Homo sapiens: one gene and its partner. The protein of the gene in region 2 binds, or shares a complex with, the protein of the main gene of each other region. Each region holds a gene or a part of one and is shown on either strand. Other genes may lie near its edges.

Region 1 (3,750 bases), on a different chromosome or scaffold from region 2:
TTTAATGCTCATTCTATTTGATTCTAAAGGGAAAAAAATCCTACTGCGATTTTTATTTGAATTAAGAGTGAATTTATAAATTACTTTGTTGAAAACTGACATCTTTATGATACTGAATCTTGCCATCCACAAAAACGATACATATTTTTGTCCTTCTATAAAGCCCTTTCAAGTTTTGTACATCTTGTTAAATGCATTCCCAAGTTCTTTATAACTCTTCTTGCAATTATTAATGGAATTGATTTTAATTACAGTATCCAATGGCTTATTGCTGGTACAAAGGAATATGCCCTTCCCTCTTTACAGAATTGTTGTGATGGTAGAACGAGTTAATAGAAATAAAAATTTTATAAGTGGTAAAGCAAAATACATATATATGATATTACTGAGCTCCCTTGAACATAAATTAAAGTTAACTTTAGTAAGTACTGAGGGTGGATTTTTAAAAAAAACTCTTCAAGGGTTGGTCCATCATTTTGAGATTATTAGGAATGAGTTTATATGGGTTTTCATATTAATTTAACAAATACATTATTATTGAGCTTTTACTATACATGGGTACTATTTTAGTCACTAGAGATACAGCAGTGGAAAACACTGAAAAGCAAGTAAGACAATTTTAGACAATAGCAAGTGCTACAAAGACAACACATATTGTGATAAAACTGAAAGCAAAAAGAAAAAAAAACACAAAAAGACAACACAACAGATCTTTTTCTTAATGATGGGAAGCGACTTCTTAGATTGGATGGACAGGCAAGACATCACTGAGGAAGTGACTTTTGAAGACCTCAATAATAGAGACAGTCTTGTATAAAGTTAAAGGAAGAATATTTTAGGCGGAATGTGGCAAGTGCAAAGGCCCTGAAGTAAGAACCACCTAGGTATGTCTGAGGAACAGAAATGAAGCTAGTAAGGTTTGAACACCATGACAGATTGGAAGCCCGGTAAAAGATAAGGTGGGAGTTTGAATTTTAAGTACAGTGGGAAGCCATTGGAGTTTAAATCAGTGGAATACATAAGCAAATTTACGTTTTTAAAGATCAGACCAGTAGGATGCGGCGGCTTACGCCTGTAACCACAGCACTTTGGGAGGGTAAGGCAGGCGGATCACCTGAGGTCAGGAGTTTGAGACTAGCCTGGCCAACATGGTGAAACGCCATCTCTACTACAAATACAAAAATTAGCTGGGCATGGTGGAGGACGCCTGTAATCCCAGCTATTCGGGAGGCTGAGGCAGGAGAATCGCTTGAACCCAGGAGGCAGAGGTTACAGTGAGCTGAGATTATGCCACTGCACTCCAGCCTGGGCGACAGAGCGAGACTCCAACTCAAAAAAAAAATAATAAATAAATCACACTGGCTTTCAGGATGGAAAAATGGATGGTATGGAACAAGAGGAAAAACAAGGAAATCTATTAGAAGTCTGGATTAGGATGGTAGCAGTCAAGAGTGAAAATACCTTTTCTGTTAATTCAGTTCAATATGACAGTGGCTTTTATTTTTTAGTTACCAAAATGGTGCTCAGAATGAATATATACATTAATGTATATAAATATACATGAATTTAAATACATACACTGAATTATTTGTATGATTTTCCTTTCATTAGATTGTTGAAATAATTATGTTCTATTTCTCTTTGTATCTCCACAATGCTTTGTCCATAGTAGTTAGTAAGTGAGATAGGCAACAAAAGCTTTAAGTGGAGGAGGGAGTGTGGGGGGTCTTATTTGTAAGATTTCTGCACTACAGGATAATCAATAAAACACACCTGCCGGCCCACTCGGTCAGGAGGAGGCCACAATGCATCATCCTCTTTGGTAATTTCACTGTCGTCAATTATTCTCTTCAGTTCCTCCATCACGCTTTTATGTACATAAGCCTGAACGCAAGTTAAAAAACAAAATGTATGTTGTATCCTTAAGCAGTGCTTTGACTCAGATAGTGATGGAAGATAAAAATAACTGTTCCTGCAGACTTATTTCTGGCATCTCCTTAAGTGGGAAGACATTCATGCTCAACCTCGGCATGATGCAGGTGAGGGACACGGTCAGAAGTATCCAGTAACTGCACCTCAGTCCCCTATCTAGCTGTTACTACCTCCTGGTACATCCTGTTCACATGGCCCTTCTGCCTGCCCACATACCCAACTCACAACGAAACCCAAAACAGGTCTGTGAGTGCCCCCTGCCATGGTTTGAATGTTTTTGTCTCCTCCAAAAAAATCATACTGAAATTAATCCCCAAAGCAACAGTGTTAAGAGATAGGGCCTTTAGGAGGTGATCAGGCCTTGAGGGCAGAGGCCCCAGGGATAGATTAGTGCTTTAGGAGAGAGCTTAAGGGAACTAGCTGGCCCCTTTCTTGTTCTTTCACCATATGAGGACACAGCATTCATTCCTTCTGGAGGATGCAAAAACAAGGCACAGTTGTGGAAGCAGAGACTGGGCCCTCACTAGACACTGAACTTGCCAGCGCCTTGATCTTGGACTTTCCAGCCTCCAAAATTGTGAGAAATATATTTTTACTGCTTACAAATTACCCAGTCTCAGGCATTTTGTTGCAGCAAAAAAGAGACTGCGACACCCACATGCCCTGGTTATTCTTTTTTTTTTTTTTTTTTGAAACGGAGCCTTGCTCTGTCGCCCAGGCTGGAGTGCAGTGGTGCGATCTCGGCTCATTGCGAACTCTGCCTCCTGGGTTCATGCCATTCTCCTGCCTCAGCCTCCTAAGTAGCTGGGACTACAGGCACCCGCCACCATGCCTGGCTAATTTTTTTGTATTTTCAGTACAGACAGGGCTTCACCGTATTAGCCAGGATGGTCTCGATCTCCTGACCTCGTGATCCGCCCGCCTCGGCCTCCCAAAGTGCTGGGATTACAGGTGTGAGTCACCGCGCCCGGCCAGTTATTCTTAACTAGGTAATACACTCCTGAGGAGCAAAATGTATTTTAAAAGATATGCCTGTGTAAAAAAATAGTGAGGATATTGACATGTGTGAATAAGCATAAAATCAATAGCTAAAATAACAATATGAAAATATATGCTAAGACATTTTCAAAGGTGGCAAAGTGGTTAAAAGGAAAGAGTAGCTTTGATGAAGCCTTAATGATGTAGTAGAAATCACAGAACGGAGAATACAAACTTTACTGGGGCAGGATTGGGAATTCCTGCTGTATCTCTTACTAGCAGGGGTAACTCAGAACAAGCCTCATAATTAATACCTGGGCCTTTATTTTCTTATTTGTAAGGGGGCTATAATACCCTCCCCCATCACATGGGCTTACAATCAGGGTTAAATAAGATGCCACGCCTGACATCTAACATGCATTCAATGATGTCAACTGCTTTCCCATGCTCCCTTTCCCACTCAGATGTAAATTAAATAGCTCTTCATTGTGTACCATGTACACAGGGAATATAGAGCACTTTAAATAGAACATATTTAATTTTATGACAGCACTTGGGAGTGGGAGGTAGCTTTTATTATTCCTGTTTTTACAGGTGAAGAAACAGAGATTTATCAAGTTCAGCCAGGAACTTGCCCAAGGTCACATGGGGTAGTAAGCAGCAGACTCAGGGTTCAAACCAAGGTATGTCAAAGGTTACCAGTAATTGATTCCACAATGTAAAATAAAAAAATCCCAACTAAAAGATGATTTGGGAAATAATCCAGAAGCTGTCTACAGACATGTGTCTCTCTCCCTGTTCTTTATCTTTCAATACTACTAGAAACAATAAAAACAATGC
Region 2 (3,750 bases):
TTGTTTTGAGATGGAGTCTTGCTCTGTTGCCTAAGCTAGATGCAGTGGCACGATCTCGGCTCACTGTAATGTCCACCTCCGGGTTCAAGTGATTCTCCTGCCTCAGCCTCCCGAGTAGCTGGGAGTATAGGCGTGCACTACCACGCTGGGCTAATTTTTGTATTTTTAGTAGAGACCGGGTTTCACCATGTTGGCCAGGATGGTCTTGATCTCTTGACCTTGTGATCCTCCCACCTTGGCTTCCCAAAGTGCCGGGATTACAGGTGTGAGCCACAGCCACCGTGCCTGGCCTTTTTTTTTTTTTTTTTTTTTTTGTGACAGAGACTTGCTCTGTTGCCCAGGCTGGAGTGCAGTGGCACGATCTTGGCTCACTACAACCTCTGCGTCCAGGGCTCAAACAATTCTCCTGCCTCAGCCTCCTGAGTAGCTGGGATTACAGGCTCTCACCACCACACCTGGCTAATTTTTTTTTTTTTTTTTTGAGACAGAGTCTCACTGTTGCCCAGGCTGGAGTGCAGTGGTGTGATCTCGGCTCACTGCAAGCTCTGCCTCCTGGGTTCACGCCATTCTCCTGCCTCAGCCTCCTGAATAGCTGGGACTACAGGCGCCCACCACCGCGACTGGCTAGTTTTTTTTTTTGTATTTTTAGTAGAGACGGTTTCACCGTGTTAGCCAGGATGGTCTCGATCTCCTGACCTCGTGATCCGCCCACCTTGGCCTCCCAGAGTGCTGGGATTACAGGCATGAGCCACCGTGCCTGGCCCACACCTAATTTTTGTATTTTTCATAGAGATGGGGTTTCATTATGTTGGCCAGGCTGGTCTCGAACTCCTGACCTTAAGTGATCGACCCATCTTGGCCTCCCAGAGTGCTGGGATTACAGGCGTGAGCCACTGTGCCAGCCCCAGCTAATTTTTAAAAAATTTTTTGTAGTGATGGGTCTTGCTATATTGCCCAGGCTAATCTTGAACTCCTGGGCTCAAGAGATCCTCCTAAAGCGCTGGGATTACAGATGGAAGACACTGCACCTGCCCGGTCATCATTGAGCCTCCTGAGTACAGGATCATTTTCCACAAAAAGTAGAAGAAGACAACGTTATTATTTGAACTAATGGTTAAATATTTGAAGGCAGAAATTTATTCAGTTGAATTTTGATCAAGATCTTCTCTAATATATTTGAAAGGCAAGCCTCCCTTATTTCCTTAATCTTCTAGAGACAGATTGCCCAATAGAACTTTGTGTAATGATTGTACTTTTGTGTTTTTGTTGTTGTTGTGTTTACATAGATATAGTTTTTTTTTTTGTTTTTTTTTTTTTTTAGATGGGTCCCACTTTGTCACCCAGGCTAGAGTCTGGAGTGCAGTAGCGTGACCTTGGCTCACTGCAACCTCCGCCTCCAGGGCTCAAGCAATCCTCCCATCTCAGCCTCCTCAGTAGCTAAGATCATAAGCACACATCATTACACCTGGCTGATTTTTTTTATTTTTTGAAAAGACGGGGGGTCTCACTGTGTTTTCCAGGCTGGTCTTGAACTCCTGGGCTCAAGCAGTCTTACCTCTGCCACCCAGAGTGCTGGGCTTATAAGCATGAGCCACTGCATCCAGCCGGAATTGAACTTTTAATTAATTGAAACTTAAGTGTCCACATTTGGTTAGTGGATATCATATTGGGCAGCATAGTTTTAGAGAGTAAGACCTACCTATTACCCATTTTGCCTATTGTGGTTTGTTTTTCTCCAGCCAGATAGATCAAAGGATCTTCCCTTAGTCTGAAATCTAACTTAAATATTGGAACTCCTCAATTGGAGTTGCAGCACCCTTCTTACTATTGGAGGACAATCTCTAGAACATTCCTTTTTGTCTTGAGTCATTTTAGCCAGAGGAGAATCTCCTTTCAAACTTCCAACCCAGACCCCTGTGAATGGATATAATCAAGTAGATTTACAAAGCATCCCTCCCTTGTCCAGCTGTTGCTCAGAAACTCTTGGGCTGAGATTTTTCAATATGTTGGATAATGTAATGTGCTAATTATAATCTCTCAGGGATTCTATGCAGGGAACAATTTGATAGGAAAAAATTTGAATTTGATTTTCTTCACTGAAGTCATTTTATTTTTCATTTTCAAGGGCTTTATTGCTATATTAAGATGGCAGACAGTGGGGACAAATTTCTAAATGCTGGTGTTGACAGAAAGCAGAGATAGTTTATAGAGAATTTTATTAGTTAAAAGAAAAAAGGCATTCCTTATGTTGACACTTAAACCTGTCTCTTGATAGTATCTTTGAGTCCCACTCACGTATGTCTGATCTGCAGAAGTGACTTTTTTGGTGTATTACAGGTATGCCCAACCATATACACATGGGAGCAGGACCTCCACCTCAGTTTAACCGGATGGAAGAAATGGTACAGAAGGGGAAAGGGGTAGATGGGGGAGGGAGCTGCCTGTTACACAGCTTGTTCATTGTTTAAACCAAGATAAGGTCTTTTTTTTTTTTCTTTTCTTTCTTTCTTTTTTTTTGAGACAGAGTCTCGCTCTGTTGCCCAGGCTAGAGTGCAGTGACGGGATCACGGCTCACTGCAAGCTCTGCCTCCTGGGTCCCAGTTCAAGCAATTCTGCCTCAGCCTCCCGAGTAGCTGGCATTACAGGCACGTGCCATCATGCCCAGCTAATTTTTGTATTTTTAGTAAAGACAGGGTTTCACCATGTTGGCCAGGCTGGTCCTGACTCCTGACCTCATGATCCACCCACCCTGGCCTCCCAAAGTATTGGGATTACAGGCATGAGCCACCACGCCCGGCCAAGATAAAGTCAGTTTTTCCATTGATTATGCATGTTTCTTTTAATTTGGATCTCCTAAATGTAAGGTAGAAGGTTTAGGTTCAAATCTTGATATCTTTTCATTATTTTTCAGCTCACTTTGCAAATATCCATTAAATACCTGCCATGTACCAAGTGTTTTTCAACACCTAAAGGAAGGTAGGACTTGATATGAGAGCCCTCTAGAATTCTTATTGTTTAGGCCTCTTTCTTTGTCTCAGGGTGTCCAGGGTGGTCGAGCCAAACGCTATTCATCCCAGCGGCAAAGACCTGTGCCAGAGCCCCCCGCCCCTCCAGTGCATATCAGTATCATGGAGGGACATTACTATGATCCACGTGAGTTTTTTCTTACTGTTGGGGTACTTTTCTTGGCAGGGTGAAGTGAAGTAAGATACCAGGCTCCTGGCTCCTGAATTTCTCTTCTGACCTCTTATAGTGGTTATCAAACATTGTCTGGTTGCTGTTTTCTTCGCATGGAATATTGAGAACATCTTTTAAAGGGCTTGGGGAACAAGGAGACTTGTCCATGTGAAGAGTAAGGGTTTATGAGAGTCCCAATGTGATATCTTACAGTGCAGTTCCAGGGACCAATCTATACCCATGGTGACAGCCCTGCCCCGCTGCCTCCACAGGGCATGCTTGTGCAGCCAGGAATGAACCTTCCCCACCCAGGTAAGCTTTGTGTCTCTGCTTATATGCTTCCAGTACCTGAGGATATATGTTGGGAGTGCCACAAAACCCATCCTCCTGAGCTTTGTGCTGCTAGCCTGGGAGTCTGGCCATCCTGGCTGCTTGGGCAACAAGTTCCTCTTGTGTCCATCCTGAGGACTTCCATTCTGAGCCTGATTATACTGAGCAGTCCAGCCGGGCCATCCTGTGAAAATGATGTTACTTTATTTTTCAGTTTTTTTCTTCTCCTTATCCAGGTTTACA

What was found. Proteins that work in one complex are often made in the same cells at the same time.
Region 1: CASC3 (region 2) and MAGOH share a complex: the UniProt entries of both Homo sapiens proteins name them as parts of the mRNA splicing-dependent exon junction complex.

What each region holds. Positions count from the first base shown.
Region 1 is NC_000001.11:53,231,769-53,235,518, forward strand, and holds part of MAGOH (protein mago nashi homolog), read right to left. Parts: intron 1,885-3,750; coding exon 1,774-1,884; intron 1-1,773. UniProt on the Homo sapiens protein: Required for pre-mRNA splicing as component of the spliceosome. Plays a redundant role with MAGOHB as core component of the exon junction complex (EJC) and in the nonsense-mediated decay (NMD) pathway.
Region 2 is NC_000017.11:40,164,460-40,168,209, forward strand, and holds part of CASC3 (protein CASC3), read left to right. Parts: intron 1-2,337; coding exon 2,338-2,402; intron 2,403-2,911; coding exon of another isoform or gene 2,912-2,980; exon of another isoform or gene 2,981-3,038; coding exon 3,039-3,153; intron 3,154-3,390; coding exon 3,391-3,489; intron 3,490-3,743; coding exon 3,744-3,750. UniProt on the Homo sapiens protein: Required for pre-mRNA splicing as component of the spliceosome. Core component of the splicing-dependent multiprotein exon junction complex (EJC) deposited at splice junctions on mRNAs.